Regions from separate parts of the Homo sapiens genome. Here regions 2 and 3 are each reported to be linked to region 1. The links are microRNA targets in miRTarBase. Many come from high-throughput screens and were not tested one by one. Region 1 holds a microRNA gene; each other region holds the end of a gene's coding sequence.
What was found. The annotated mature microRNA hsa-miR-3913-5p reads UUUGGGACUGAUCUUGAUGUCU and lies in region 1 at 6,351-6,372, shown strand. An mRNA with a match to its seed (bases 2 to 7 or 8) in the 3' UTR can be bound and repressed. Matches are read on the target gene's strand: a 7mer-m8 pairs with bases 2 to 8, a 7mer-A1 pairs with bases 2 to 7 and ends in A, and an 8mer does both.

Region 1 (11,426 bases):
TTTTGGCTTGAAAAATTAACATATTTTATGACGTACCACAGTATACTCTGCCCAAACCAGCACCCTATCTATCTTTCCTGTTCTTTACATCCCTGTTCCCCATCCCTACTTCCTCATTTTTGGTATAACACAGTTCTTTTGTAGCATCATTATAATTGCAGTTCTATGGCAATTGGACAGTTATAGCATGGAAACAGACTGGTATAAGTAGTACAGTAGTCACCAGTGTGCCACATTTGCATTAGTAATGCAAAATATACATTTTATAAAGGACAAACTTTGTGTTATGTTTTATTTTCATTACATTGTATAATATTGTAAGACTATTGTATGTCCTAATTTGCATTATAAATGTTTTTTTCCTACGTAAAGGCATAAATATAGCAACTTTGTATAAAGGTAGCTTATTAGATTTTTAATTTTTTCTTTTATAAAAAATTGTCCAACAGTGGGACTACCATTGCCAAATTGTATATGAAATATGAATTTTACCCCCATGGTTAATTTCTTTTATAAACATTCCATATTTCTCTAATAAAAAGACATAAGTGATACTGTACTATGCATACATTGTATCTTAATGCTGTTTCAGATCAGCATTTTAAATTTTGGTTTGCATTTTTAATATTGGCAAAACGTAACCACTGTTAATTAAAATAAAACCTTGTTGTATATGTAACAACATAATTTTCCCTCTATCCCTTCCCACCCTTTGTTCTCTATTTCTCCCTATCAGTGCCAACTTCATACATTTTGTAGCATGGCAATAAAATATAACTTTTACACTGAGGCCGAGTGTGGCTTTTTGGAGGAAGTGGGGATGGGACGATTGCCCTCTAGTTGTCCTTTGCATATGACTGTTTTTTGCCATATAAGCCATGTCATCAGGCATGAAAAGTTTTCTCATATATGATGTAAACTTGCTTTTAAGGACAAGTGTGAATGTGCTTTTTAAGCTTAATTTTTGTCATGACAACTAATTTTTTTTATCTTTGGAGAAGTCAGAGTTCTTTACAATCAAACGTTTATTAACTGGAGTACTTAGAATAAGCTAGTAATTGAATTTAGTTCAAGGGCTAAGCAACACATTTTTAAATCCTTATTTATTGTAGAGTATTAGTATACTGTCCTACAAATTATGTAAAATATGGTTTAATATTAGATGACTTTGGATTTTGCAATGCCTTACTGTTGTCATTCTAGCATAAATATCCATAATGAGGTACTCAAGTTGATACTGGAAGCTGAGCTGATCATACACTGACCTGAAGCATTCATGAAAAGCTGCTTTATTGAATAAAGTCTGATTGGAGTTCTTTTCATGCTCACTTTCCCCTTATTGCTGAAAGTAGATTGCAATAAAACCCCAATAAAACGTTTGGTCGGATATCTACTTAAAAGTTTTATTGTATTTATATTTCACATACTACTTGAAACTTTGTGACATTTTCTTTCCTAGTCTCATATCACTGCCTCCATTTTCAAAATGAAGATATCAAAATGAAATTGTAACTATATGACAGGCTTTCTCACAGTTTTAGCTGTGTGATCATTCCAAATAGTAGTTCTCAGCTCTGGGACTTCAAACCTGTTTTTAGCCACTGAGTGACATTGCAAAGCCTTAGTTGAGTACAGGTCAAGATGGAAATTATTTAAACAATGAAGGAGATGGACATGTCCACAAGTGATTGATGTAACTGGCATGATAAAGACACACACAAAGGAAGGGCATCCAACTCAGCCTAGGGGTGGAGGTTTTCAAGCAAAGCTTCTTAGAGGGGGTGATCCCTGAGGTGGTTTGTTGAAAGTCTTTGTAGCTTAGAGAGGATGTCTTAGGGAGAAGGGATAGCATGTGCAAAGGCACAGAGGTATAGAAAGATCATGACATTCAGTGGTTGCAAGAGGTTCCAAATGACTAAGCGCATGGAGAGCAAAGGCAGGGTTGGGGGATACAGAAGAAAGGAGAAATGAGAAACAGATCACAGAATCCTAAGGAGCTTTTGTTTAAATTAGGTGAGAGAACTTGAAGGATTTTAAACACCAGAAAAATAATAGTTTAGAAAGATTTCTCTGACAACATGGATACGTGAAGGGCGCAGTATTTTTTTTTTTTTTTTTTTTTTTTTTTTTGAGACGGAGTCTCTCCCTGTTGCCCAGGCTGGATGGAGTGCAGTGGCGCCATCTCGGCTCACTGCAAGCTCCCCCTCCCAGGTTCATGCCATTCTCCTGGCTCTGCCTCCCAAGTAGCTGGCCCTACGGTATTTTAATAAAGCAGGGAGACTGGTTGAGAGGCTTTTTCAGAAATGGAGCCAGATCTGATAAATCCGTATTCAAAGGCATTGTTAAAGGACTGTTTAGATTGTTTACTGCTGTGCAACAAACCACCCTAAAAGTTAGTGGCTTAAAGCAGCAATCATTTAATGTCTCAAGTTGCTATAGATCGAGATGGGCAGGGCACAGCAGAGATGGCTCATCTCACATGATGTCTGGAGGCCTGGCTTCCTCATATGCTTTGTGCCTATGCTAGTATGATTCAAGCAGCTGAGGGCTGGCTGGACCAGTTCCACTAGGTTATGTCTGGAACTTAAAGCTCTCAGCTGTGTTCCTTAGTTTTCTTCCATGAAGTCTTGGGTCTTTCTTCATGTGGTCTTCTTACATGGCAGCTTAGGGTTCCCAAGAGCACAAAAGTAGATGCTGCTAGGCTTTCTTGAGGCCTAAGCCCAGAACTGGCACAATGTCAATTCTGTTGTATTTTGTTGAATTACAGTGGCTCATATAAAAGCATGAACATCAAAAGTGTAGTTTATTCAGGGCCACCAATGTAATAGAGGGCCTAAAGGAGGAAGAATTAACACCTCTGATTGATAAGGGGAATGACAGAAATGGAGGGGTCAAGGATGACCCCCAGTTATCTGGTTTGGGTGACTGAGATGGTTGATGGTGTCAGTTCATTGAGATTTAAGATATATTTGGGGGCTGGGCATGGTGGCTCATGCCCGTAATCCCAGCACTTTGGGAGGCTGTGGAGGGTGGATCACTTCAGCCCAGAAGTTTGAGACCAGCCTGGGCAACATGGTGAAAACCTGTTTCTATGAAAAAATACAAAAATCAACTGGCGTGGTGGTGTGTGCTTGTAGTCCCAGCTACTCAAGAGACTGAGGCAGGAGGATAGATTAAGCCTGGGAGGTTGAGGCTGCAATGAACTGTGATCCTGCCACTGTGGTCCAGCCTGGGCAACATAATGAGACCCTGTTTTTTTTTTTTTTAAAGTGCTCCTCTAAGTGTGCTCCACAGACTGATTCCTGTGTACAAACTATCACGGTCTGCAACAGGAGAAATATCAAGTCTTCTAACCTTCTCCCTACTACCCAAACAGTAGGTGTCTGGGTGGACCCAACTTAATGTGACTGTGGACTCCTGGTCCTTTATTTGGTTTCCTTCCCCAGGTATTCTAACTGTTCCTGAGGAATGTTGACAAGTCCCATAACTCTGTTCTGGTGGTTGTTTGCCACTTCGCCAGTTATTTCACTCCAGTTAATGAATCTACCCTTGCTCCCAAATCACCTCTAGCCATCAAATAATGATATGCTACAGTGCTTTCCTACTTCCATAACATGCCAAGCATATCCAACCTCGGCTACTATATTTATAAAGCCTATTAGAAGACTTGGGATATAATGATAACAATAGCTAAGCTAAACAGGCACTGTTCTAAGCTATTTAATCTGTGATAATTATCTCCATTTTACACAAAGGGAAATTGAGGCACAGAGAGATTATATAACTGGAAGCTGACCAGTTAACAAAAAGCCAATTCACTGAAAGCCAAATTATACCAAGGGGAAGAGAGAGGAGGACACAGGGTCATAGAGAGGAGAGGGTCACAAAGACTTTGAGGGAGGAGGAAGGGTTAACTAAGAGAAGCCAAGACCAAGGGACTTGAGAGTAGAGGACAGAAGATGAGCCAGGAGAAAGTCACACAACGTGTTTAATCACAGAAACATGGATTCCCAAGGTCTCACTATCTCCATAGGCCCTGTAACCTATCTAATACAAATTACGATAAAATGTATAAATAGATGGGCACAGTGGCTTCTGCCTGTAATTCCAGCACTTTGGGAGGCCAAGGTGGGCAGATCGCATGAATTCAGGAGTTCAAGACCAGCCTGAGAAACATGGCAAAATCCCGTCTCCACCAAAAATACAAAAAATTAGCTGGTGTGGTGGCGCATGCCTGTATTTCCAGCTACTCGGGAGACAGGTCGGAGGATCGCTTGAAGTCAGGAGGCAGAGGTTGCAGTGAGTGGAGATCACACCACTGCACTCCTGCCTGGGTGACAGAGTAAGACCCTGTCTCAATTAAAAAATATATATATAGGTGTGGTGGCTCATGCCTGTAATCCCAGCACTTTGGGAGACTGAGGTGGGCAGATTGCTTGAGGTCAGAAGTTCGAGACCACCCTGGCCAACATGGTTAAACCCTGTCTCTACTAAAAATACAAAAATTAGCCAGCTGTGGTGGTGCATGCCTGTAGTCCCAGCTATTTGGGAGGCTGAGGCAGGAGAATTGCTTGAACCCGGGAGGCGGAGGTTGCAGTGAGTTGAGATCATACCACTGCACTCCAGCCCGAGCGACAGAGTGAAACTCTGTTTCAACAACAACAACAACAACAAAAAAGTATAAACAGCTAAAAGAGACAGTTTTTGGTAAACCAGCACATTGATCACGCTCTGAATGGCCTTCAATGAACTGATTTAAAGAGCCTGTGAAACCCACCCAAGACTACAAAGCTAGTACGTAAAATGGTTGAAATTCAAACTCATATAGTCTGGGTCTAGAAGCTGAGTGTTTAGCCTCTAGGTGTAGAGGTGTCATCAAAGGAGGGGGAAGTAGGAAAGAAGGAAGGGTCAAAAGATGCAATGGAGAAAGGACACATTTCCAAGGGTCCCATCATAGAGTCTCTTCCTGGCTGCCTCTAGCCTCAGTTCCACAAGGTGGCAGGGCCTGCCTCCTTCTCCCCATCCAAATGCCTCTGGCTACATTCAAAGCCCAGCAGGGAGCAGTCATTGGTTTCCCCATCACACACAGTCTCAGGCTTGCCTACCAGAGGACATAATAAATATCTCCAGGTATGTAATTTTGCCCACAATAAAAACAACCTTTTTCAATATTGTGCAGGCATCTTAGTTTTTTATTGTGAATCTTCTCATTCCAGAATGCGATTTGGGATCTGCCTAGGAAAGTACATTTCCTGAAAGAAGACCAAATTTTCCTACAAAGAAGAGAAAACTCTTGGGAGATTTAAAATAACAATTTGTCCAGCCTGAACTCCCCTTTTCATGTTGGACCTGAGGAATACTGTAAACCAGGGTCAGCAAACTTTTTCTGTAAAGAATTAGATAATACATGTTTTAGGTTTTGTGGGCCCATTCAACCTGTCATGACTACTCAACTCTGCCACATAACTCTGCTATCGTATTGTGACAGAGTAAATATGTATGGGTATGCCCATGGATTCCAATGAAGCTTTATGGACACTGAAATATTAATTTCACAGGATTTTCATGTGTCAGGAAATTTTTGATTTCTTTCAACCACTTAAAAATGTAAAAACTATTCTTAGCTCTCAGGCCATACAAAAAACAACTGGCAGGCTGGGTTTGACTCCTCACAGCTTGCCAACCCCTGGTGGAAATCAACCCACTTAGAGGAAATCTGAAGGGTAGAAACAACTAAAAAATTGAAAATTCCTGTTAATGTTAGCAATGTCAAAAATCCAGGAGACCCCAGCTACTCAGGAGACCAAGGCAGGAAGATTGCTTGAGCCCAGGAGTTCCAGGCCAGCCTGGGCAACATAGAAGACCCCATCTCTAAAAAAAACAAAACAGAAAAAGAAAAATCCAGGAGCTTGTTTTGTTTTGTTTTTGTTTTGAGACAGAGTCTCGCTCTGTTGCCCAGGCTGGAGTGCAGCGGCGTGATCTCGGCTCACTGAAACCTCTGCCTCCCGGGTTCAAGCAATTATCCTGCCTCAGCCTCCTGAGTAGCTGGGATTACGGGCATGCACACCACGCCCGGCTAATTTTTGTATTTTCAGTAGAGACAGGGTTTCACCATGTTGGCCAGGCTGGTCTCCAACTCCTGACCTCAGGTGATCCGCCCACCTCGGCCTCCCAAAGTGCTGGGATTACAGGGGTGAGCCACCGCGCCCTGCCGAGGAGCTTAAGCGATCAGTTAGTCAAAGGGAGAAAAGAGGGTATCAGTAGATGACAGAAAAATTTTTTAGAGAACAAATTTTTAGACATCCGTCAACTTAGAGAAAGTAGAAAACTGTCTATAATAAACTGAAATATTTGGGACTGATCTTGATGTCTGCCAAGGTTTTGGCAGACATCAAGATCAGTCCCAAATATTTCAGTTTATTATAAACAAAGACTAATAAGTCGTCTCTACTATTGGAGGAAAAAAAAAAAAAAGACCGAAATGCAAAAATTCCTGAAAATGAGTAAATAGGGCAAAGATAAAATACTATAAATGTCTCTCTCAGTTCACAAGACCTTATCCTGGGCAGTCAACGTCCAGTTAGAAATAACGTCTGAAAATTCAGTAAGAGAAAAGGAAGTCTTCTTCTGTAATACTCAGTAAATAATGTTTAAAATTAACATAGCAATAATATTATCTGGGAATATGATAGTAAATAGCCCCTCCAAAAAACTGAAAAAGTTGAAAGCAGTTTTCCTGGAGACAGGAAGTGGTGAGGCAGATAAATTATGTTTTTCCTTATTGGTATATAACACTTTAAACTGTGTACATGTGTGACTTTAATAGAAGTGTTTAAAGATTAAATTTAAGAAAATAAAAAGTGTGAGCAAGAACTCCATTTCTATGGCAACCCGCGCGGCAGCCGCCTCTTTGTTCTGGAGCGGCGGCCACGCCCCCTCCAGTGTGAAAGGCTGCGTTTCCGGCCCGTGGGGCTCCAATCAAAATGGGACGCCTGCTGGCGGTAACGACAGGCCGGGGCCCCGCCCCCCGAAGTAGGGCGTGTGGCGTCACTTCCGGCTTCCTTCAGTCCGCTGGTCCCGAGCACGAGCTGTGAGGGGATTCACTTGTGTGCGGAACTCCTCGGAACCATGGTGAGCCTGACTCCCCTGCCTCTTGCCCTACCCCTGCTCCGCCGTGCTCTTGCCACCCCACTGCTTCCTCTGTCCTGCTAGGGTCGTAGGCTCCGTTTCTGTCTCCCCGGCCCTCCGCACATGGTGCGAGCCATGCGCGGGGCGTGCGGCCTGCGCCAGGCCAGCCGGTGGAGCTCACCACGAGGGGGAGGGGTGGACCGCAAAGCCAGCGTCTCCTTGTGCCTAGGTCTTTGCATAGTCCCGGCAGCCCAGGTCCGCGCCTCACCCGGAGCGAAGAAATTTCTAGTGTGGGACCCGCTCCGCCCTCCTTCTAGGGGCGGAGCCTGGAGCGACGGGGTCTGAGCCATCAGAGGGTGGAGGGGCCGCAGCCTTCCGAGGGTGGAAGATGGAGGCCGCGTTCCCTCGCCCGCCCGGCAGGCGTCACCTTGATGGCCTGCAACCCCTCCCTGCCTCATTCTTAGTTCAAGATCGTCTTTAGTCTCGCTGTACGTAACTGTCAATCTCGCTGGTGTATAATTTATACTCCCGGGGGCCTTGTAAATCCGAAAAGCCATGTCGCTCTCCTACAAGTCCCTCTCTCCCACTTAAATGCTTTCTCCGATGATGGAAGCTTCATTTGATTGAAAACATTGTTGTAAATGAGTTTTCTCTTAGATGTCCACTTGTAAGACTAGTGGAAGGCACCTCAGTGTATGTGTTAGAGTATTGGTACTTAAACGGAATGCCTCTTGGTTTTCCTTTTCAGGCGTCCCTTTCCCTTGCACCTGTTAACATCTTTAAGGCAGGAGCTGATGAAGAGAGAGCAGAGACAGCTCGTCTGGTAAGCCTTGTTCTAAGCATTGTTTTAAAGATAAAACTGGAGGCCAGGCGCGGTGGCTTACTCCTGTAATCCCAGTACTTTGGGAGGCCGAGGTAGGCGGATGAACTGAGGTCAGGAGTTCGAGACCAGCCTGGCCAACATGGTAAAACCCCGTTTCTACTAGAAATACAAAAATTAGCCGGGCGTGGTGATGGGCACCTGTAATCCCAGCTACTCGGGAGGCTGAGGCAGGAGGATCGCTTGAACCCAGGAGGCGGAGGTTGCAGTGAGCTGAGATCGCGCCATTGCACTCCAGCCTGGGCGACAGAGCGACACTCTGCCTCAAAAAAAAAAAAAAGTAAATAAAGATAAAACTGTACTTGAAGACTGTAAAGTTGATTCTGATAATCTCCTTGGTTTTTACTCCAGACTTCTTTTATTGGTGCCATCGCCATTGGAGACTTGGTAAAGAGCACCTTGGGACCCAAAGGCATGGTAAGAAAAATAGAAAAGTTTTATATTTTAATATTGTTTTAGAGCGCTTGGTGGAAATATAATAACAAGCGTATTAAAATGCTTTTTAATCTTTAAAACGTTTAATTATAAAAGACAAGTATGTTCTCCTTAGTAAAAATCAGAGTCCCCAGAATCACCATCCCCAATCCCATGCCCCTCCCCAATGACAAGTACTGTTATCATTTGCACGTACATCTTCTAATATTCTGTTTATGTAGAAGTATGTGTACTTCATTATGTATTTTATACTCATGTAACATACTGTTTTATAAAACAGATACTATTTATCAATACTTTTTTGTAGCTTGCTCTTTTAAATTCCTTTCAGTGTAAGTAGATAACACTGCCCCTTTAACTGTCAAATATTATCCTGTACCTTAATTATTTTATAATTTAATTATGGCTGTATTGATAGTTTCTTTCCATTGTTTTTGCAGTTACGGTGTTGAAACAAAAACTAGTGTCTACCTGTGCTTCTAGTGTTTCTAGGGGTAGATACATGGTTTGGTTACGTGGTGTATGTATTGAAAACATTTGATGAATGGATACCACAAAATAGCTATCCAGAGTGTTTATACACTAGCACTGTGTGAGAATACTGATTGATCCATGCATTCTTCAAGATGTGCTTATGTCTTAACTTGAACCAATTATGTTCCCTTTAGGACAAAATTCTTCTAAGCAGTGGACGAGATGCCTCTCTTATGGTAACCAATGATGGTGCCACTATTCTAAAAAACATTGGTGTTGACAATCCAGCAGCTAAAGTTTTAGTTGGTAAGTCTGAATATACTTTTTCACCAACCTAATAATACTGTTTGTTAACATTTTTGAAATAACTTTATAAATAGGCTGTGTTGACCAATCGTACTGTCAATTGATGTCCACTAGTTGTTAATTATCGTTGTTAAAATACAAGCTTCAGGAGTGCCCGTATGTTGGTGGTAAAACTGTTGCATTTCAGACCTCAGAGTTCCAAATAATTTGTTGAATGAGGAACCCTGGTAAGTTTAGATTGGTAGTGAATATTTTTGGAGAATTTAGTAAGCAAAGAAGCAATTTTGAGTTAATAACTAATTTCTTTTTCTAGATATGTCAAGGGTTCAAGATGATGAAGTTGGTGATGGCACTACCTCTGTTACCGTTTTAGCAGCAGAATTATTAAGGGTAAGAGCAACTAAGCAACTCTTTTTTCCTACTGTGTTTTTGAGTATCAGAGGTAATCTAGTCCTTACTTCCTCTGTCTTTACTATTGAGGAGTGCTTAATAATTTTCTATTTATAACTTTTGTTTTATAACTTTATTAATAGGAAGCAGAATCTTTAATTGCAAAAAAGATTCATCCACAGACCATCATAGCGGGTTGGAGAGAAGCCACGAAGGCTGCAAGAGAGGCGCTGTTGAGTTCTGCAGTTGATCATGGGTTTGTATAGCAAAGTACTACTGTTCTAAACATTTAGTGTTCTTTCATAACATGCTTAATGCAAGAAATCTATAGGACACTGAAAAGCATACACAAAGATCATCTTGCTGCCTCACCCCACTCCAACAGTCAAACCTACATCAGCCTCCAGAGATAGCCACTAAAGTTAAGTTTGGGTTTTTAGTCTTTTTGTATATATCATCAAAATATACAAATAAAGCAAATAGTATAATACTGTATAGAGAATTTGTTAGCCTCTTTTTAACCTAGTTAAATATTAAGCACATTTTTGGATGTCAATTTTCTGTGCAGTATTTTAATAGAGTTACACATTTGAATATTTGGCTAGAATGACTGTATTAACCTATCTGTAGGGGGAGATTTGTGTATTTGATGATTTTTAGCATTATAAAATAACTTTGTGACGTTGCGACATAGCCCAAAGGTTTCTAGAAGTGTAATTGTTGGGTCCAAAGGTAAGTGTGTGTGTTTTAAGGCACCCCCAAACCTGGGCTGCACAGCAGGTGAGCAGCAGGTGGAAAAATTGTCTTCCCATGAAACCAGTCCCTGGTGCCAAAAAGGTCCGGGACCACTGTTTTAAGGCACTTCTATTTATTTGCCCATTCACAACTGTATAATAATACTTGTTTTTCACGTCCTTTTATTTATTTATTTATTTTGAGACGGAGTCTCGCTCTTAGAGTTGCCCAGAATGGAGTGCAGTGGCACGACTTCGGCTGACTGCAACCTCTGCCTCCCGGGTTCAAGCGATTCTCTTGCCTCAGCCTCCCAAGTAGCAGGGACTACAGGCATGTGCCATCATAGCCAGCTAATTTTGTATTTTTAGTGTAGATGGGGTTTCACCATGTTGCTCAGGCTGGTCTTGAACTGACCTCAAGTGATCCATCCTCCTCAGTCTCCCAAAGTGCTAGGATTACAGGCGTGAGCCACTGTGCCCGGCCATTTCTCACATTCTTGCCAACATTAGACTTTTGCATGCTTGTGTGGCCCCCACCCCTCTTTTTTTTTTGGCATTTTGCCAGTTTGGTGGGGAAAATAACATCTTTAATTTGTGTTTCTTGATTACTGCTGAGGTTTAATTCTTTTCATATAGCTTACAGACTTGATCAGTTAGGGTAAAATTATCTATTGACATGAATATCTAGATAAATTTTGAAAAGTAAAGTAGGGTTAATATGTATATTTGGTTGGTTTTATTTAGTTCCGATGAAGTTAAATTCCGTCAAGATTTAATGAATATTGCGGGCACAACATTATCCTCAAAACTTCTTACTCATCACAAAGACCACTTTACAAAGTTAGCTGTAGAAGCAGTTCTCAGACTGAAAGGCTCTGGCAACCTGGAGGCAATTCATATTATCAAGAAGCTAGGAGGAAGTTTGGCAGATTCCTATTTAGATGAAGGTATGTATGAATGTCAGATACAAGAAGCTTTGATTAGATGCTGAGGGCTGAATACTGAGTGAATTCTGTTTTGAGACCAGTGACCCTTTACAAAGCCAGTGAACTTGAATTTAAGGACATATCATATGTGCA
Region 2 (10,466 bases), not on the chromosome of region 1:
CTCCACACATTTGGTCAGAGAAGTTTTCTGTCTTTATTGTGGTGTGAGAGCAGAGGAAAAAAGTTTGTTTTTTCCGCTCAGACTTTGTTTTAAGGAACAGGGGAGAGGGAAGTTCTGTGGTTTTTGAAGTTCTTAGATACGTGTGTGTAGCTTTGTGTGGCATTATATATAGCATTATATTATTTTCTACCCTTATCTACTCATACAGAAATTGCACAGTAAAAACATCAAAGTTTATTCATAAAATGTGGATCTATTGCAGTCACTAAAAATGTTGCAGAACAGATTTTAATGACTGAAAGTGTTCATGATAATATATTCAATGAAAATATGGTTATAAAGTTTTATAGTCCTTTTTTTGTTTAATATCTATACAAAAGCTATTGAAGTGTATGATTTTAATTTATTAGCCTTATCATGAAATTCTTTTCACACTATAAAAGTCATGCTAGTCTTAAGTGAGGGTAGGGATGGCATAAGTTTTTTTTGTTTGAGGTTCTAAAATTTATGTGGATTGGCTGATAAAGAGCATTTATGAAAAACTACAGCTAACATCAGATTTAATGGTGAAATATTGAATTAAAAAAAAATAAACACATGGGCCAGGTGTCATGGCTCACACCTGTAATCCTAGCACTTTGGGAGGCTGAGGCAAGAGGATCCTGGAGTTCCAGACTAGTCTGGGCAACATAGGGAAACCCCGTCTGCAAAAAAATATTTTTTAAAAAACTAAGCGTGGTGGCCCATGCCTGTAGTCCCAGCTATTCAGGAGACTGAAGTGGAAGGATCACTTGAGCCTGGGAGTTCGAGGCTGCAGTGAGCTGAGATTGTACCACTGCACTCCAGTCTGGGCAACAGAGTGAGTCTGTCTCAAAAAAACAACAAAACAGACTGGAGAACATAGGGAGACCCCATTGCTACAAAAAAAAAACATCCTAGCCAGGTGTGGTGGCACATGCCAGTGTTCCCAGCTACTCAACAAGCTGAGGTAGGAGGATGGCTTGGGCCCAGGAAGTCAAGGCTGTAGTGAGCCATGATCAGACCACTGTACTCCAGTCTGGGCGACAGAGTGAGACCCTGTTTCAAAAAAAAAAAAAAGTGTATATACACACACATTCACATACATAGAGAATGAAAAGCAAATGGGCAAAATATAAATAGTTGGTGAATCCAGGTATACAGGAGTTCCTTGTACTCTTGGAACTTTTTCTGTAAGTTTGAAATTATATCAAGATTAAAAGTTAAAAAAACTTTATACAGTGTATATAGATTGGAATAGACCCTCTGAAACCTTATTTCCTGGATTCCTTCAGTGATCTAGCGTTTTGGAAAATACACCTGTCCCCTACTGTTAATACCAGGTAACCCTGTACATGCGTACCATTTGCATCTTCAAAGCCCCATCCCAGGCTTACCTTACCTGGTCACCAACATAGCTGCTATTTCCACTCTCTCTGTTGCTAAGACCATATATAGCTTGTGTCTTATCTGTACCTCAAATGAACCCAGAGGTGAAGTGTTATGGGACTGACCTGGAATGCAGCTTCATTTTGCCTACACTAGTTCCACATCAAGACCACTAAGTTCATTAGAATTTGGCCCAGTCTCTGTAAGTGTTGCTTCTGCATTTATCTGTTAACAACTCTCAAATGCCAACTTTGGGCATCCAGAGATATGTGAGGCCTAAGAAATATTCAGGTGCTCGGTGACTCACAGCATGAGTTATTGGAATATAGACCTCACTGTGTAGAATGATGTGAGTGTCTTTGGTTTCTGTACTATATTTAAGAAAGATGTCAATAAAATATTTGTATATTAAATTATACTTACATAATTTGAGGAGCTCACTAATTATGGAAGACTTTAAAATTACTTCCCTGATTTATCTATTGGGTTATACAAGTTGAACTGAGTCACCTGGGAATCAATGTGTTTTTTTTTTTTTTTAATGTTCTTTTATTTTGACCGCAGCGAAGTTCTGCTCTCCAGAGCCTTTTTGAGCTCTAAGGTACATTGGACTTCTATTTCTAGTCTTTAACCTGACTTCTAGTTGTTCCAAAGTTTTGTTTCTAAAAGAGTACCGTCTTGGGTGCGGTAGGAAAGGAATAATTTAAGCTCTTAAAAAATACACACACACACACACCTGGTACTTAAAGCACCATGGTTTCAGAGAATTCTACATAACATTTTATATGTCAAAATTTTGAGACATGCATGTCATTACATAGCTATTTCAGTGTATAGGAGTAAAGTCTTCATTTTGGATTCTGAATTGAATAATGGGGAAAGAACTGATCTATCTTTACAATCTTAACTCATCTTCCCTTTCTTACCTGGTCACCGTAAAAATAGTGCTATACAGGCTGGGCGCCACCCGGTGGCTCACGCCTGTAATCCCAGCACTTTGGGAGGCCGAGGCAGGCGGATCACGAGGTCAGGAGATAGCGACCATCCTCACCAACACGGTGAAACCCCGTCTCTACTAAAAATACAAAAAAGTAGCCGGGCATGGTGGCGGGTGCCTGTAGTCCCAGCTACTCGGGAGGCTGAGGCAGCAGAATGGCGTGAACCTGGGAAATGGAGCTTGCAGTGAGCTGAGATCGTGCCACTGCACTCCAGCCTGGGTGACAGAGCGAGACTCCGTCTCAAAAAAAAAAAAAAAAAAAGTAGTGTAAAATAGTGCTATACTACATTGACAAGACTCAGAGTCTACACTCAGATTACAATAAATGAGAAATGGCAAAAACATATGTTACATTCTATGCATTGGCCATAGAGAACAAACTTAGGAAAAGTGATAGTATGGGGAAAAAGAAAAGTAATGGCACTAAGGAAACAACTGATGTGAACAGGATTATCCAGCTTCTGCTAATACACATTTTTTGCCTCCTTTGCTGCACATGCCACCCCATCTGTCTCACAAAGGCTTTAGATGTTAAGAAGTTAGAGGTGCAGAGATGCTGTTGCTCCCCCAACAGTGGGCTTGGTTTCTTTCTCAGAATGTTTGAAGGTATTTTTTGCTGCTTCCATCCTGAGGAATGGCAGGTTGGGCAGCATGTACTGCACATTCTTTTCATCTGGAGTTTGGAGGGTTGGTTCTGGGTCTGTTTTTTTTTTTTTTTTTTGAGACGGAGTCTTGCTCTGTTGCCCAGGCTAGAGTGCCGTGGCATGATCTCGGCTCACTGCAGACTCCGCCTCCTGGGTTCAAGTGATTCTCCTGCCTCAGCCTCCCGAGTAGCAGGGATTACGGGTGCCTGCCACCGCGCCTGGCTAATTTTTGTATTTTTTAGAAGAGATAAGGTTTCACCATCTTGGCCAGGCTGGTCTCGAACTCCTGACCTCATGATCCACCCGCCTCGGCCTCCCAAAGTGCTGGGATTACAGGCATAAGCCACTGTACCCAGCCAGTTTTGGGTCTTTTAAAGTAAGACTCAGCTGAGTTGGTCACTGTGGCTCATGCCTGTAATCCTAGCACTTTGGGGGGCTGAGGCAGGAGGATCACTTGAAGCTGGGAGTTCAAGACCAGCCTGGACAACGTAGACCCCTCATCAATACAAAACTTTAAAAAATTAGCTGAGTATAGTGGCTCATGCCTGTAGTCTCATCTATTGGGGAGGCTGGGGATCACTTGAGCCCAGGAATTTGAAGCTGCAGTGACCTATGATGGCACCACTGCACTCCAGCCTGGGCAACAGAGTGAGATCCTATCTCTAAAAAATAAATAAAAATTTAAAAAATAAGACTCTGCATGCCCAGTTATCTTGGGTCCTAATTTATTGTGGATATGGATAGAGGTACAAAGGAAGGATTTGCATTCTAATTTCCCTTTTACCACAATCTGACTTATTCCTCTTTCTAGAATATAAAGATTCAGATAAGCATACTTCTAGTAAACCCACACAAGGAGTTAAAAAAAGAAAGATTGGTCTTTTCCTGCCCTCCATAACTTGATCGTAATTTGTGTATATATATACACACACACACATAAACACTTCAAGAAACACCAGGCACTTTATAGACATGATTTTTATTAATATGGTATCCCTGAGAGACAGATTAGGTGTAAACATTATTTTGCTTTACAGAAAGGGAAATGGAGGCAGGTTAACTTACAAGACATCTGGAACCAGAATATCTGTTGATACCACAACCAATGCTTTTCCCACGAGACTATACATAGATATACTAAAGACAATACTTTTTTTTTTTTTTGACATTACAGCACACTTCCTAAATCATCTGAGATCCTGAGGCACTGCTTCAGACTGGTGTTTCTTGTAGCTTCCTGTCTGCTTAGGCAACATAACAGAAGTACCATCTTCCCTTAATTCCTAATAAATATTAGATTTTTTTGTACTAAGATTCAACAGCAGAATCCTAATTAATCTCTAACACAACAAGCTATGAATTATAGAATACTATATCTTCCTACTGCTCTCCCTGATCTTATTCCAGCCACAGAATTCTAATTGAATGTGAAACGGCTACTTATCCCAGTCCTTGGCCATCTGGCCATGTTTATCTTTCTTCTCACCTGCTCATCAAAATATCTTCATCAGATACTACGATTTCTGACCTTTATCTCCCATAGGAGCTAGTCCCCTAAAACTGCTTATTCTTTCAGTGGCAGTCAGCTGTTTCCTTATCAATAGTTATAGCGTAGTACCTGATTTACTATAGATGATGGTTCTACCACCTCATGGTCTGCTCCTAACACCCATGTTTCAGCTAAGGTGATTCTCTCTGCCTGCTGCACAGCCCATATCATACTATTCCTCAAGTTCTCATGCTACTCCAAGCTTTATCTGGCCTTCCTTACAGTCTATCCTTTGCCCTTTGTTCCATCTACACAAAACACCTTGCTCCCCCTTTTTCCCATTCCTCAACCCACCCAGCACTCAATTTTGCAACTAGTTATGGAAAGTTCTTCCTATCATAATTTAACCAGTAACCTTCCCTCCTTTGACCACTTCCTGCTTCATGAAGCCTTCCTGAATAAAGAGAAAAAATACCTCCCAGATTTTTGTTAAAGCAAACTAATGCATTGGACCACAACATTTATGCATAGTGTTGCTACCTAGCTTTCTAGATTTCTCTAAAACTGCCGCAACTATGCATGTGCACTTGTTTGTCCATGTCAGTGTCATCTGCTTTAGATTGTAAGGACAAGGAGAGGACCTGTTGACCTTGTGCTATACAGGGCTCATCATACTATGAGCATATGGGCAGTTAATACTATTGTATTATAAAGATGAGTAATTATATTTGCATTTAAAGAACTGCTTTTAATTGTATTCAGTTGAATGTGTATGTCTAGATTGGCAGCTCCACTGGCCAAAGATAATCCATCTTCCCTGCCATTAGGGTAAAGGGCCTGTTCGCACACAGTAGTCCATTTTCCCAATACACGGGAATGTGGCAGTGGCTTCTGCTTATTGCAGGTAAGTGCCCATGGAGGGCATAACACTATACCAGGTGTGTGGAATATGGACGAGTTCCTATTGGCAGCTTTAACTGCTCTACCTGTCACCACATGCAGCTGCGTTGCTCTGTGGAACTTCTGGACCACAAGAGACAGACGAAATTCAGATGAGACTGGACAGAAAGAAAACCAACCTAAATCCTGTAAATGTATTATTCTATTCCAACCCTTCTTCTAGGACTCAGAAGAAACTAAGAAATCCAGGGTTCACACTTCAGTATAAGGTTTTCATTGTTTCTGCATAAGAACACCTGTTCTTGACAAGATGATTCATAGGGCAGAACCAAGATGGACATTAAACTCTCCTTCTTTAAGGTAAATGAAGAGGGTGCCTGACAAATATGTCATTTTGAGCACAGGTTTAAGTGAGCAGGAAGAGTCATTCATTTTAGCATTTCCATTATTGTATAAAGAAGAGCTGGGCCGGGTGCAGTGGCTCACACCTGTAATCCCAGCACTTTGGGAGACCTAGGCAGGCAGATCATGAGGTCAATTCAAAACCAGCCTGGCCAACATGGTGAAACCCCATCTCTACTAAAAATGCAAAATTTAGCCTGGTATGGTGGCAGGTGGCTGTAATCCCAGCTACTCAGGAGGCTGAGGCAGGAAAATTGTTTGAACCCAGAAGGCAGAGGTTGCAGTGAGCTGAGATCATGCCACTGCACTCCAGCCTGGACGACAGAGTGAGACTCCATCTCGAAAAAAAAAAGCCCGGCGCAGTGGCTCATGCCTGTAATCCCAGCACTTTGGGAGGCCGAGGCAGGCAGATCACCTGAGGTCGGGAGTTTGAGACCAGCCTGCCCAACATGGAGAAACCCCATCTCTACTAAAAATATAAAATTAGCTGGGCATGGTGGCGCATGCTTGTAATTCCAGCCACTTGGGAGGCTGAGGCAGGAGAATCACTTGAACCCGGGAAGCAGAGGTTGCAGTGAGCTGAGATCGTGCCATTGCACTCCAGCCTGGGCAACAAGAGCAAAACTCCGTCTCCAAAAAAAAAAAAAAGAGCTAGACCCACCTAATGGGCAAAGTCTCATAACTTCTTCTCGAAATGTAATGGGTTTTTCCTGTCAAAATGCAGCTGAATGACAGAATGAGTAAAGAAGGATGCTTATCAAATTCATAGGATCTATTACCTTGTCCTCTGTGCTTATATTAAGGGAACACCATAGGCACTGAGAGGGAAAAGATGTTATCCATCAATTCAGATGCAGGCAAAGAGAGGGACTGAAATCTTCCTTTCATTCTTTAGACTGCCTTGGGGATTTGAGTCTAGATCAGGAAAAACAAGGAACAAACAGTGGCATAAATCCTAAAGTGAATTTCCTAAGCTAACTGGACACAGAATAGTAGATGAATCTCACTATTGGAAGACTTTCTAAACAATACATTTATTGAGCCTCTTTCCGTTATATATCCTCAGGGGCTTACTTGGGAGCTGACTGTGTCAGAAGCTTTTCCCGTGCATGGATTTCTCCGTGCTTATTAAGGGCAGAGCTTTTACTGAAGCACTTACCACAGTCATGACACCCATAGGGTTTCTCTCCTGTGTGGGTTCTATGATGTGCACGTAAGTCAGAACTCTTACTGAAACTCTTTCCACAGTCAGGACACACATGGGGTCTCTCTCCTGTGTGTATCCTCCGATGTGCACTAAAATGAGAACTGTTATTGAAGCTTTTTCCACACTCTTCACATTGATAGGGCTTTTCTCCTGTGTGGGTTCTCTGGTGAATGATAAGGCTTGAGCTCTGATTGAAGCATTTCCCACACTCACCACATTGATAAGGTTTCTCTCCTGTGTGGATTCTCCTATGGGTGATGAAATTTGAACTGTCACGGAAACTTTTTCCACAGTCAAGACATTTATAAGGTTTCTCTCCAGTGTGGATTCTCCGGTGTCTAATGAGTCGTGCACTCCGACTGAAGCTTTTCCCACAATCAGCACATTTATATGGATTTTCCACCTGGTGGGATACCTGATGCATGAGAAGGGAGTTTGGACCAAAGCTTTTGCTGTATTTGAGATATTTATAGGGTCTCTCTCCCAAGCAAGGTCTCTGTTGACTTAGGACTTCACTTAAGCTCTTCTCCGGGAGTGTCAGTTTTCCTCTTTTCTCCCCTGAGGTCTTTGCCCACTGTCTTCCTGATCTACAGTCACTCTCATTGCCTTTACCCTGATGAAGATACCGGGGAATTTTCCTTTCAGATCTTGCAAGTAATGTCCTATGCAGTTGTACTTCCTCAGAAATATCCCGTTTTGAATTATCTTCATTCTCAAATCCAGCTTCAAAACCTGATGTAAAACAGAATTTTAGAAGTTATCTATTTTCTTAATCATATGTGCCACAGGAATGTAAAACTTGGGAAAAACAAGCATTACACCACATGATTAAAATTTAGGGAGCCCTAGATCCCAAATAACTACCATTATCTTATTAAAATCCCAATGTTTTACTTCTCTACTTGTTAACCTATCATGTGCTTCTCATCTACATAGGGTCTGAATAATATATACTTTTAATTCCTCTTGGTCATCTAGGATCTTTGGAAAATCCTCCCAGTACAGCATGGAAAATCACCAGGTTTTAGATAAAATAATTTCCATGTTTCTACAGGAAAGACACTTTCTAATACGTATTTTTGCCACATCTCGGGTCTGTCATAGTATTCTTATTCATGTTCTTCACCAGTAACTAAAAGGTTTAGAAGGACATGCTCAGGAAAACATTTTTGGAAACTTTTATATCCAGAGGAGCTTCATGAGTCCCCTTCCCCTCACATTCCAATATACGTTGCAAGTAAAAACAGGATAGAAAAATATGTAGTGTCTTTCAAAGAACCAAAAGGCCCTAAGAACCAAATGCCTGGCTTTTTTGGGCCTAGGCTATGCAAATTTGCATTTATTCAGCTATTTCAGGTAAACTCTGAATCCCATATTCCCTAGACTAAATCTAGGAGTAAAAGCATGTTGAGTATCAGCCCATGTTTGTACCTCCTGAGACAGTATTTCTACCCAGAAGCCTAGTCTTATGAGATATTTCATGAAATATTCACTAGATTAAATAAATCTTAGAACCTTAAATATGTGAATATGTATTGTGAGCCTCCAACAGGGGTATTTACCATCTTCCCAAACCTATAAGTTATTTTTTAGTAGAATATATTAATACCCCATGGAATTGATATTCCAGGGAACAACATTAAAAAATGCTGATCTTAAAGACTTATGAAAATGAAAACTATTATTAAATGGCTACTATGTGCCAGGCACTGTGCACAGTACCTCATTTACATCAACCCTATGAGGTAGGTCTTAATATATAAGCAAACTTGGGGGTTAAGTAACTTTTTTTTTTTTTTCATTCGTTGCCCAGGCAGGAGTGCAATGGCACGATCTCAGCTCACTGCAACCTCTGCCTCCCAGGTTCAAGCGATTCTCCTGCCTCAGCCACCCAAGTAGCTGGGATTACAGGTGCGCGCTACCACCCCTGGCTAATTTTTTGTATTTTTAATAGAGATGGGGTTTCGCCGTGTTGGTCAGGCTGCTTTCCAACTCCCGACCTCAGGTGATCTGCCCGCCTCGGCCTCCCAAAATGCTGGGATTACAGGCATGTGCCACCATGCCCAGCCTTAAGTAACCTTCTCTAAGTCACTTAACTAATAAACAACAGAGCCCAGATTCACATACGTACACATATATGACTCTGAAATCAGAACTCTTCTCACAAGGATGGAAGCCCTTGTGAAGTATTTTTTTCTTATCTAGCAGCTAAGATTCAAAGGGTCAGTTCTCTCAGGAACCTCAGATTCATAAAAGTGAACAACAGTTATCAGATTTTCATAAATGTGAATAAAGCAGACATACAGCTGGTATATGAGCTGAAACTAGAAGAAGACATATAAAAGAGAATGAACTTTTAAAATCAACTTCATCCTACCGTGGGTACGTGACATGCTACTTGAGAAATGTGAGCTTTCAGATTCCCTGCTTAGTAAACTGGTTGGAAACCTAGTGGTTCATGAATAAATCACAGCAAATTTACAATGTGCAGCTATCTCAGATTGATGCTCTAGTGTGGGAAGTCAAGTCACATAAATAATTTATATCCCCTCAGTGAGCTGCTTTAATAGACAAGAAATATGGGTGGTCACAAGAAGAATCCATGAAAGCTGGGTGTAGAGGCCAGTTCTCAATCAGATGATATTTTTCCTAAGTCCCATTGTCTTCCCTTTGTTATTTATACCATAATAGTGAAATAATCTTACCACGGGGGCTTTGGAATAACACTGGAGCACGGGTTATGACAGCCCCTGGGGGTATCTCAGTATCCTCTTCATCATCATCAGAATCTTCCTCTGTGGCCTCGTCTGCTTCCTCAGCTTGCTTCTGAGCTTCAGCCTCACTGGTCCCCTGGACGGGGCAAGAAGCAGTCTCTTCCTGGCCATCATTGGGTGGGGCAGCAACCCGGACACTCACCAAAGCATCCATCTCTTCAAAGAAGGGACAGGTCTCTGGTGCCTGGCCATTCTTAACTTTCCGATAGCTGGTTTGCAGGCTTTTAAACTTGGTCCGACACTGTTCTGGGGTCCTAAGAAAGCCATATTCCCATAACCTCTCAGCCACTGCTCCATACAGCTGGCTGTTGCGGTGACAGTTCCGGAGGGCTTCATAAAACTGGGTCTCACTAAGAATTGCAAGGTAAGTCTTGGTCTCTTCATAGCCCCAGTGTACACCTGCCACCAGAAGAGAAATTTCAGCACCACTTAATCCAGAGCTTTAGAGCCTGAATTCCTCAGTCCTATCATCTGCATCATGAGAATTCACCTAAGCTCAGGCTCCTAGATGAAAAAGTAAAAATACTTCATGTTTCCAAAATCCACAAACTCAGTATAGAATGTTTTGCTTCTTTATATCCTTTAGCAATTTCACAGAGACCTTTATTTACAAATTCTGTTTAGCCATATAAAAAAGAAGCTGGCC
Region 3 (11,426 bases), not on the chromosome of region 1:
CTGGCCAAATATGGGAAAAACCATTCTCTACTACAAATACAAAAATTAGCCAGGCATGGTGGTGCATGCCTGTAATCCCAGCTACTTGGGAGGCTGAGGTACAAGAATCGCTTGAACCCAGGAGGTGGAGGCTGCAGTGAGCCAAGATTGTGCCACTGCACTCCATCCTGGGTGACAGAGTGAGACTGTCTAAAAATATATTTTTTCTTTGTATTTTTAAACATCTTTCATTAATTTTTAACTTTAACTTGGATCTGTTTTGTACTTTTACTTTTGTTCTTTTCCTAATCTTAATAGTAGAACTGGGTTTTCATTTTTGGTCTTTCATAGTTAATAATAAAGATATTTAATTAAAGTTATACATTTTCCCTTGATTTTAGCTTTAACTGCACCCTATACATTTTGGAATGAAATTTCCTCCTTGTCATTAATTGCTAGATTGTAATTTGTCGTTGCGTTCTCTTTGATCCATTGGTTATTTAGGAGACTGTATAATTTCCAAATAGTTAAGGGTTTTTTGTTTTTATTTTTGATTTTGGGTTTTTTGTTTTTTTTTTTTTTGGCATTTTAAATTACTTAGCCCTAATTTTATTGGCCTGTGACCTGAGACTATGACCTAGAAAACCATCTACTTTTAAAAATGTGTTAACGTTCGATGTGGCCATGTGGAGGATTGATTTGCAAAGTGGTTTCATCAATATAATTTTTTTTTTTTAGTCATAGGGTACAAAATTGTGTGTGTGTGTGTGAGAGAGAGAGAGAGAGAAATTGATTTGCTGTCAATTACACTCTACCTGCTGGAACAGGTCTTTGTGCAAGGCAGATCTGTGGGGGATGGTGAAGGCTCTAGTTCTAGTTCCAAAGTGATGCCTTCGCCTTGCTCCTACCAAGATTCCTTAGATCTTGCTGAATAAATGTTTCACGATTTGTTGTCAGCCTTTTGGTCAATCTCTAGAGACATTGAATGATGGCTTTTGCTAATTTTGACCAGTTTAATAGATGTCTTTCTGTGGGAGAGGTTTCCCTGAGCAGCTCATACAGCTGTTCCAGAATGTAGACCTTCTGGGCTCTCCGTGTTCTGTAGCATTGGCCTGCTTGTCTATCCGTGTGCCAATACAACGTTGCCTTATTTCATTTAACTTTGTTATCTGATAAGCACTCTCACCATATTCTTTTTCTTTAAGAGTATCTTGGCTATTTTTGAGTCTTTGTATTTTTAGATCAATTTTAAAATCAATTGAAGTTTCATTTTTTAAAAACCTGTTGCAATTTTTGGGATTGCATGGAATAGAATAGACAGCTTTACGGTATTGAGTCTTCAGTCCAAGAACCCATCACATCTCTTCATTTAAGGTTTTCCTTGATGTTTCTTAGTTTTTAACTTGTAAAAAGTTTCAGACATACATTAAATCAGAGGGAATAGCCTGGACCCTCGCATATCTGTCACCTGGGATTTAACAGTAATAACCCTTTGCTATATTTGCTTTATATATTTTTCCTTTGCTGAAATATTTCAAAGCAATTCTGCTATCATACTTGATTCCTCGGTACTTTCAACGTGTATCTCCAACATTTTCTTTCATAACCTTAATGTCATTATTATATCTAACAGACAATACTTATTTTAAAATTCATTTGCTATTTTTTACTAGTATACTTACAGACTTTTTATATTGAATGCATCAGCAACCTTGCCAAACTCTCAAAATTCTAACAATTTACTGTATTTTGATACACCTAGTATACCATCAATTATCAGACACACCATTTATGTACCATCATTCTTAAGACGGCTTCCAACTAAGACTCAGTAGCTATTGTGAGATGCAGCCCAATTACAGAGATGTTCAAATATTGTGAAATGTGTCTTGGAATTGATAAAACATGGTATCTGTGGTTTTTTTGGATTTTCTATGTAAATAATCATATTAGCAAACAATGAATTTTGTTTATTCCTTTCTCATCCTTGTATCTTTGTGTCTTTTTCTTGCCTTACAGAGTTGGCTAGGACATTTAGGACGATGTTTAAAATGCTGCTGGTAGGCATTCTTGTGTTATTCCTGTTCTCAGAGGGAAGATGTTAATATTTTTACCACTAAGTATGATGTTTACTGTTGTTGTTTTTTTCTTTTAATATCCTTTATTGACAAAATTCTCTTCCTGGCTTGCTAAGTTTATCTTTTGCATGAATAGTGGTTGAATTTTATCAGATATTTTGTGTGTATTGCAATGATTATGATTTTTCCTTTTGTTTAATTTGGGGAATTACATTGATCAATTTTTCAGTGCTAAGCAAACCTTGCATTCATTCATTGCGTAACTCCAACTTGGGGAGATTATTTTACCCCCTTAAATATTGCTGGCTTTAATTTGTCAATATTTTTGCTTGGGATTTTTGCAGCTACATCCATGAGAACGGCTTGTAACTGTCCCTTTTTTATACTGTCCTTGAATGGTTTTGGTATCAGAGTTTTGTTAACCTCATAAAATGAGCTGGGGACTACACTCTTTTTCTATTAACTGGGAAAACTTGATAACATTGGAACTATTTCCTCCTTAAACTTTCGGTAGCACTCACCAGTCAAGTTCTGTCTAGGTTTGTTCTAAGCTAATTTTAATACATGAAATATAGGTCATAAATGTTCTCTGATGATTTTCAGCAGTAAGAATATACTGATAATCTCGAAGTCATAAATATGGCTAGTCCTTCCTGACCAGTAAGGAACAGTACATTGAATTCACTTGGGCCTATAGTTTGTGAGATTTTAAAACCACTTATTCTATTCCTTTTATAGGAATAGGACTATAAAAGTTTTCTATTTCATAGGCAACTTGGGTAAGCTGTATTTTCCTTGGAGTTTTCTATTAAAAATTGAGTAGTATTGGCCTGAAAGTATCTATTAATATCCTCTTATCTTGTAATGTGTGCATTGTAGTGATATTTCCTCTTCCTTCCTAACATTGGCAACTTGTGCCTCTTTTTTCACTTGATTGTGTCAGGTGGGTCTCTTATAAACACATATAGTAGGGTGTTATTTCTTATCCAGTCTGACACACTATCTTTTAACTGGGGCATTTAGCTCATTTACATTTAATGCAATTATTACTATATTTGGGTTTTCACTTGCCATGCCATTTTGTGCTTTCTCTTAGTACCATCTGTTCCTTATTTCTTTTCCCCTCTGTTTGTGCCTTAAGATTTTTTTTTTTTATTCCCCTTTTTCTTCTCTCCTAGTTTGGAATTCATTATATACACTATTTTTTGTCTATTATTGGTTATCTTAGAAACAAAATACGTATCATTAAATTCTCAAAGTCTAGTGATAATCATTGTTTTACCTTCCTCCTAAATAACACAACAACCTTGGAGCACTTAACTCCATTTACCCACCCCCAACTTATATGCTATAGTTGCTGTGTATTTTAATTTTACATATTTTAACACCCACTTGATATATTATGTTTTATAAAATTTTTATTTAATTTATCCTAGTAGTTACCTCTTTTTTCACTCCACATTCTTTCTTGAATTCCAGTGCCTCTGGCTGGATCACTTGCCTTCTGCCTTCCATTAATGAAGGTCTGCTGGCAGTAAACTCTTTTTCTTTATATAAAATGTCCATTTCATCTTAATATTTTAAGTGTTTATGATTTGTACTGGATGTATAATTCTAGATTGCAAGTGGTTTTCTTTTAGCACATTGACAATATCATTCCAGTGTCTTCTGGCTTCCATTGACTTAGGACTTCTCAACAGCAGCAATTTTAACTGTTGTTCTTTACACATTTTTCTCTAACTACTTTTAAGATCTTCCTCTTGTCTTGGCTTTTCTGCAGTGTCCCTATTCTCTGTATAGATGCAGATTTATTTTTATATGCTCTGCTTTGGATTAACTTCTTCAGTCTGTGGAATGAGCCACCACGCCCGGCCTCCTGGATGCTATTTCTATAGATAAAATAGTGGGCCAGGTATGGTGGCTCACGCCTATAATCCCAGCACTTTGGGAGGCCGATGTGGTGGGATCACCTGAGGTCAGGAGTTCGAGACCAGCCTGACCAATATGGTGAAAACCTGCCTCTACTAAAAATACAAAAATCAGCTGGGCATGGTAACACATGCCTGTCATCCCAGCTACTTGGGAGGCTGAGGCAGGAGAATTGCTTGAACCCGGAAGACGGAGGTTGCAGTGAGCCGAGATTGCACACTCCAGCCTGGGCGACAGAGCAAGACTCTGTCTCATAATAATAATAATAATTTATTTTTGCCAATAAATCATTATTATTTTCTTTGTAGCTCTTTGATCAATTAAAAACATTTCGTCTAGATTCTTTAATTGTCCTCACTGGGAGATTAGATCCAAATGATCTATCCTGCTATTACTGAAAGCAGAAGCCTGTTATTATTTTTTAAGATTCCTTTTTCACTAATATTCCATCTTATGTTGCAATAACTTGACCAGTGAGCACAGTGGCTATGATTTGGATTTTGACTTTTACAGAGCTTTCTTTTTAAAATAAATTGTGTATCAAAGTAACAAATACTCAGCTGGGTGCAGTGGCTCACGCCTGTAATCCCAGCACTTTTGGAAACGGAGGTGGGTGGATCACTTGAGGTCAGGAATTTGAGACCAGCCTGGCCAACACAGTGAAACTCCCATCTCTACTAAAAATACAAAAATTAGCCGGGTGTGGGTGGTAGGTGCCTTTAATCCCAGCTACTTGGGAGGCTGAAGCAGGAGAATCGCTTGTACCCAGGAGGCGGAGGTTGCAGCAAGCCGAGATCGCGCCATTGCACTCCAGCTTGGGCAAGAGTGAGACTCTGTCTCAAAAAAAAAAAAAAAAAAAGAAAAGAAAAGAAAAAAGTAACAAATACTCATAAAATTAAGCATTAAAATATGAAAAGTTAACCCAAAATCTACCCAGAAGTAATCATAAACATTACTTTAGAAATCTTTCTATGTGTATTATAGTGTCTGGCATTTTACTATACATATACACATAGATTTCTAGAATATATAAAACATGTTTATTAAATATAGGTTATTAAATATATATTCTAGAATACATATATTTTTAATGTTTAATATTTAGATAGTATGCTATATGTCATATGGTTTGTAAATTATGTTTAATATTAATGACATATAGTATGATGGCATACTATATGTCATTATCTAATAAACTTACCTTAGGCTAAGAAGGTAAAACTAGAACTGCACAGTATTCCCCAATTCTTGCAGGCTTGAGCATGCTGGTCCATTACCTTTGTACCCATTTCAAGGGCAACTTAGCTGAGCACACAATTCTTTCTCTCCAACATTATTGTTTTCTAACATAAGTGTTTTTGTTTTTAGGGTTTTTGTTTGCATTTTAAAGTGTGCTATTTTTATTCCCTTTTTTTTAAATGTCTGGATTGAATTAACAAGCAAATTTGTCAGGAAAGGCACATAGGTCCCTATTCCTTGAGGTGATGTTGACAATGCCTGTCTGTCTATTGCCTTTACAATTGAACAGCTTATCTATTATCTTCTAATTATTTTATTTTGCTTCTGCATCTATTGTGGTTCCATATCCATCCAGCCACCTCTCTATTGATAGAATTTTCATCCATTTCTTTTTTTTTTTTTGAGACGAAGTCTTGCTCTGTCGCCCAGGCTGGAGTGCAGTGGCGAGATCTCAGCTCACTGCAACCTCCGCCTCCTGGAGTCAAGCAATTCCCCTGCCTCAGCCTCCTGAGTAGCTGGGATTACAGGTGCGTGCCACCACACCTAATTTTTTTTTTTTTTTTTTTTTTTGTATTTTAGTAGAGACGGAGTTTCAACACGTTGGTCAGGATGGTCTCGATCTCCTGACCTTGTGATCCACCCACCTTCGCCTCCCAAAGTGCTGGGATTACAGGCGTGAGCCACCACACCCAGCCCCATTTCTATTCTTTAATGTGCTGTTTCTACTTCTGTAATTGTGCTGATTTGATTTTCAAGTGCTTTCCACCTTTTCCTTCATCACTTTTTTGTTGTTCAGGGATTATATTTTCTTTTAGAATTGCACCTTCAGCCATCATTTTATACAGATGCTCCTTGATTTACGATGGGGCTGCAACCGCATAAACCCATTGTAAGTCAAAAATGCATTTAACAATCTGATAAACCCATTGTGAACTCAAAAAATTGTGAGTTGAACCATCGTTAAGCTGGGGACCATCTGTACTTGTTTATTTTGCTTTACTGTGTTGCTTATGTGCTATACCATTTCTTTTAATCTTGCTTGTGTATAATAAATTTTATCCAGACTATTCTAATTTAGTTAAGAATACATTGGATATCTCTTCCACATCTTATTTTTAAAGCACGGCTGTATTCTATTAAAAATTTAAGAAACAGGGTTTCCATTCCATACTCTGAATTAATGAACAGTTGTTTCAACTGTGGTTTATCTGCCATGGTTCACAGAAAGCAGAACAAGAAAATTTACTAAACAGGGCCAGGTGTGGTGGCTCACGCCTGTAATCCCAGCACTATGGGAGGCCGAGGCGGGCAGATCACAAGGTCCAGAGATCGAGACCGTCCTGGCCAACATGGTGAAACCCCGTTTCTACTAAAAATACAAAAATTAGCTGGGCATGGTGGCGCGTGGCTGTATTCCCAGCTACTCAGGAGGCTGAGGCAGGAGAATCGCTTGAACCTGGGGAGGTGGAGGTTGCAGTGAGCCGAGATCGTGCCACTGCACTCCAGCCTGGTGACAGAGCGAGACTCTATCTCAAAAACAAAAAAAAAAAAAAAGAGAAAAAATGTACTAAACATATCTACCCCTTCTCCCCATGTTATCACATTGGGTAGTACATTCGTTGTTAGCAACTGTCATATTTGCTATGTCTACTACAGCAATAAATAAGTGGGTTTTGCTAGGTTGTTGTACAATGAAACAATTAATTGTTGATATCGAGTTTATTGATGAGCCATTTACCTTCAGATGCCATACTCCAGTTTTAGCTTCGACTATCTCATTCTACAAAAGTTCACCATCTTCAAAATTTAAACATAGACTTACCATTTGACCAGCAATTCCACCCAAGAGAATCAAAAACATCTATCCACACATAAATTTGTACACAAATGATCATGGTAGCATTATTTATCATAGACAAAAATGAACAGAACCTAGATGTCCATCAGCTGATGAATGGATAAAGAAACATGGCATATCATACAATGGAGTAATTTCGGCCATAAAAAGAAATGAAGTAGTACTGATACATGCTATATCATGAATGAACCTTGAAAACATGCTAATAGAAGGAAGAAGGCAGAGAGGGCCACATATTGTATGATTCCATTTACATAAAATTCCCAAATCCATAGAGACAGAAAACAGATTAGTGTTTACCGCAGGCTTGGGAAAGCAGAGGTGGGAACTGACTGCTCATGGGTATGGGGTTCTTTTGGGGATGATGAAATAGCCTGAAATTAAATAGCAATGATGTTGCACAACTCAGTGAACTATACTAAAAACCAATGAATTGAGCCTGGGAACAATGGCTCTGGCCTATAATCACAGCATTTTGGGAGGGTGGCTTGAGATCGGGAGTTTGAGACCTGGGCAACACAGTGAGACCCTGTCTCTACAAAAAAGTATTTATTTATTTTTTAATTACCCAAGTGTGGTGGCATGTGCCTGTAGTCCTAGCTGCTTGGGAGGCTGAAGCAAAAGGATCTCTTGAGCCCAGGAGTTTGAGGTTACAATGAGCTATGATCATGCCACTGCACTCCAGCTTGGGCAACAGAGTCAGACCCTGTCTCTAAACAAACAAAACAAAACAAAAATGAATTGTATAATTTAAAAGGGTGAATCTTATGGTATGTAAATTATATCTCAATAATGCTGTTACTCTAAAGAAAAAAAGGTCATCGACATGATTATCTACTACTCACATGCTATAGAGGTCAATTAATACCACTTGCAAATGAGCAAGGAAGAAGAAAGGTTTATTTAGCCAAAGAGAATCTGAGAATCTTGATACTAAGAATTGCTAATTCATATAATGGCTTAGAATAGTTTTACTTCATACTGTGATCAATAATGGATTAGCTACTTTATCCTTATCTAGGACAAATTCCAAGCATAGGCAGCTACAGTCTGAAAAGAATTATTATAAGCTAGAATTTTTCTAAGAAAAAGATTTGTTCTCAGGAATACGAAAATAGATACAAGGAACTGACCCAGACATGACAATAAGTCTAACAAAGTTAACACTAGTAATAATGTGTCAGATAAAAGGTAGAACTGAGCTAAAAACTCAAACTTTAAAAATGTACAGCAAATCAATACCCAGAAGTAAAAGAGTCTTGAATGTTCTAGTTCATTCTTCTCTCCATTTTAGGTACTCTCTTAATGGCATTTTTATGGTAAGTTGAGTTACCTCAGAACCTGCCGTGCCCCTCCTGGATGCACCAGGAAAGTCACAGATGGGAAAGGACACTCTCTCACAGCAGCTTTGCTCCAGTCACCAAGCCCAACACTGCGAACCATAAAGCAGCACACAGGGACTTCTTTACACCAAAGGGGCCCAATCCAGCCCTTCCTTCTGTGCCTGCCACTTCCGGGTTGGTGCTTTACAGCGCTTGAAGGGAGAACAATGTTCTGTAGTCTGCAACACACTCCAGACCATGTTGACGCTATGATCACTATGTTTGCATGATTGCATAGAGCTTAAAAGAAGAAACAGAACACCAAGTTTCTTGCACTGAATTCACATATGAAAACTGGAAGAGCACAACTGTTAGTTTTCAAGGTCTTTGGCTAAAGCTTCACGAATGAATTGTAAAGTACGCTGGTACAAAAAAGCATCCTTTTTCTTTGGCTTACAAATGTTCAAATGGTTAACATCCACAGGAATTAGATCTCCAATGCCTAAATCTGAAGAAAATAAAAAAGTCAATAAACCTAAGTAAAAATATAAGCTTTCCCCTTGACAATACTGAAAGAGGCCGAATGGGTAGTTCTAGACATTGCTTTGGTTGTGACAAGGGACTCTTAAAAGATAAAGGAACCTGAAGTTTGATTGCAGCTAAACTACATTTGATGAAACATGCAGGAAGGGATTCTCAGTCAGTAGAACCATAGTTTTATGCTTTCCATGAACTTTTCGTATGTGTTCTGGCCTACTTCCTTATTTCAGAGCAAGCAGAGATTGAGCACTAACATATTCAAAACCTTCTTACACCTGCAGGTTATTGCTAAGTTACTTCAGAGTTTCTATTATAAACTTCCTTTCTCCTGGTGAAATGAATGGGAATGTCTCACATGGGATCCATTCTATACCTAAATCCCAATAATCACTTTCAGGGTAAAAATGATTTAGTGCTTGAGATATTTCGGTCTAACAAAGTCCCCTCGCACGGAAGTGATAAGAGGTACTAGTGAGGCCACCTAGGTGAGGAATGCAGGTGGTGGTTATGAAGGAAGAAAAGCCTCTTGGTGACAGAATTAGGGCAAGGCTATGCCACTCCAAGCAGCTGGTCCATGATATTAACTTTGCTTTTGGGCGAGGCACAGTGGCTCACACCAGTAATCCCAGCACTTTGGGAGGCCAACGCAGGAGGACTGCTTGAGGCCAGGAATTTGAGACCAGCCTGGGCAACACAGCAAGACCCCATTTATACAAAAAATTTAAAAATTTAGACAGGTGTGGTGGTGTGCGCCTGTGGTCCCAGCTACTCAGGAGGCTGAAGTGGGAGGAACGCTTGAGCCCAGGAGTTCGAGGCTGCAATGAGCTATGATTATACCACTGAACTCCAGCCTGGATGACAAAGTGAGACCCTGTCTCTTAAAAACAAAAACAAAAAACTATGCTGTTGCTTCAAGCTTCCAAAGTCCTTTTTAAAAACATCTGGCAGCTGTTCTTTGGAACTCTTCAAGTTCTTCAACTACTAAATAGTAACTCCTCAACCTACAGCATATTACTTTAAGGTAAAATTTTTCAGTTCTACTACACAGTATGACATTTTTCATTTTATGTAGATAGCATATAATGAAATTAGGACAAAACTCATTATGTAGACAAAAGAACCATCTGGCAAGCACTCCAGATGCATGCTGTCCCTAGCCTGAAGGACCCACAATGTGGCTGGCTACCACCAGAACAGCACCTAAGCCAGCCTCAGAGGCAGTAAGAAAGGGGTTCCCAGAGATAACAGGCAAGCTGAAGACATGGCCAGGTGAGGCAAAAGCAGTTCAGGTGGTGAAATGTACAGGGTATCTAGTATGTACAGAGTAACAGAGGAGTCTATGAAGAGAGTTAATTAAGATCTGGGCTCCTCCCTCAAAGAATCTATAATACATTATATGACACTAGAGAGCAAGCACTGGCCATTTCCCTCAACCCCAGGATCATGAAGAGATTGTAGTTCAACACTAGTTTTTCCCACTGGAATATTTCTGGAGCTTTACTATTCCCCATGGATCTTCTATTTACGAAAGCTTCCACACTTTTAGATGATTTTCTTAAGGGTTCTGCATGTAAATATAAGTCTAAGTCTATTAAATAAATGCCCCTTTTGATCTAGCTGATAGAAGAGCTTTCTTTACTGCAAAAGAGTTCACTGTTGATGCCTAACTTAGAGTTAGCCAATTAACCCTTCTCATCTAATCAGTTACATAAAGGGCAGGGAGAGGTAATACCCGGGTTATATGTTTACAGAGAAATTTTAATCTATTGCTGAAAAGAATAAAAGAAATCAAATCTAGACCTTCATAAACTATCTCTTAAAACTGAGAACCTGGATATAAAAATTGCTGTTTACAAGTAAATGCTAGGTATAATTAAGCATCTAACAGCCAACAAGTTTCAAAAGAGTGAATACCTGCTGATTCCACAGGTACCACATGGAGCTTAATCATGCTGCCAATGTAGGTTGGTAGTGTTTCCACAAAATTCAGCACCTGGAAGTTTTTGTCTTTAGCAAACTCCAGAAAGTCATCTTGTAGTGTTTTAAGTGCAGGAGAATCTGTAAAATTATACAGAACAAGACTGTGACAAGTTGTTTACCCAATTCATAATAAAATGCATTAATCTTTCAAATTTAGAGAGGAAATTAGAATTCTGATTCAAGACGGTGGCTTGAGTACACATGTTTATTTTCTCCCCTGCCAAGAAGCCACTAAGATTCAAGGAAAAAGCTAAAACCAAGAATCGACAGGACAGTCAGCAGCAGGAGAGGGTTTATCACATTACTGGGGGCAGGAAGCAGTTCCCAGGGCAGTCTGGTGTGTGGGACCACAGGGGTCCTCCAGTGTGATGATGGCACCACAACACCCACCCCAAAGCCCAGCCTCCCACCAACAAAGCCTGTCTACAATCACAGAATGCCTGTCCCTTCCCATCCCTCACCCTCACATATGAAAGAGCAACCAAGAGGCACCAGATAGGC

Region 2: miRTarBase lists ZSCAN29 as a target of hsa-miR-3913-5p. Seed matches in the 3' UTR shown: 7mer-A1 at 6,228-6,234 and 7mer-A1 at 5,941-5,947.
Region 3: miRTarBase lists SERAC1 as a target of hsa-miR-3913-5p. Seed matches in the 3' UTR shown: 7mer-A1 at 7,558-7,564.

Annotation. Positions count from the first base shown.
Region 1 is chr12:69,578,394-69,589,819 of GRCh38, forward strand. It overlaps MIR3913-2 (microRNA 3913-2), which reads left to right and starts at 6,330; the gene lies at 6,330-6,429. It overlaps CCT2 (chaperonin containing TCP1 subunit 2), which reads left to right and starts at 7,066. Exons shown (of 16, transcript NM_006431.3): 1 at 7,066-7,131; 2 at 7,877-7,951; 3 at 8,360-8,425; 4 at 9,112-9,223; 5 at 9,537-9,613; 6 at 9,757-9,869; 7 at 11,092-11,294. The coding sequence starts at 7,129. It overlaps MIR3913-1 (microRNA 3913-1), which reads right to left and starts at 6,430; the gene lies at 6,329-6,430. It overlaps FRS2 (fibroblast growth factor receptor substrate 2), which reads left to right. Exons shown (of 9, transcript NM_001278356.2): 9 at 1-1,400. RefSeq lists an enhancer at 7,097-7,436.
Region 2 is chr15:43,354,164-43,364,629 of GRCh38, forward strand. It overlaps ZSCAN29 (zinc finger and SCAN domain containing 29), which reads right to left. Exons shown (of 6, transcript NM_001372080.1): 5 at 9,752-10,219; 6 at 4,012-7,778. The coding sequence ends at 6,910. It overlaps MAPDA (N6-Methyl-AMP deaminase), which reads left to right. Exons shown (of 13, transcript NM_001324366.2): 13 at 1-406. Among named protein-coding and RNA genes, the nearest start is that of ZSCAN29, 12 kb to the right of the region's middle. RefSeq lists a silencer at 712-905.
Region 3 is chr6:158,102,590-158,114,015 of GRCh38, forward strand. SERAC1 (serine active site containing 1) reads right to left here. Exons shown (of 17, transcript NM_032861.4): 16 at 10,860-11,003; 17 at 6,930-8,913. The coding sequence ends at 8,777. Among named protein-coding and RNA genes, the nearest start is that of SERAC1, 60 kb to the right of the region's middle.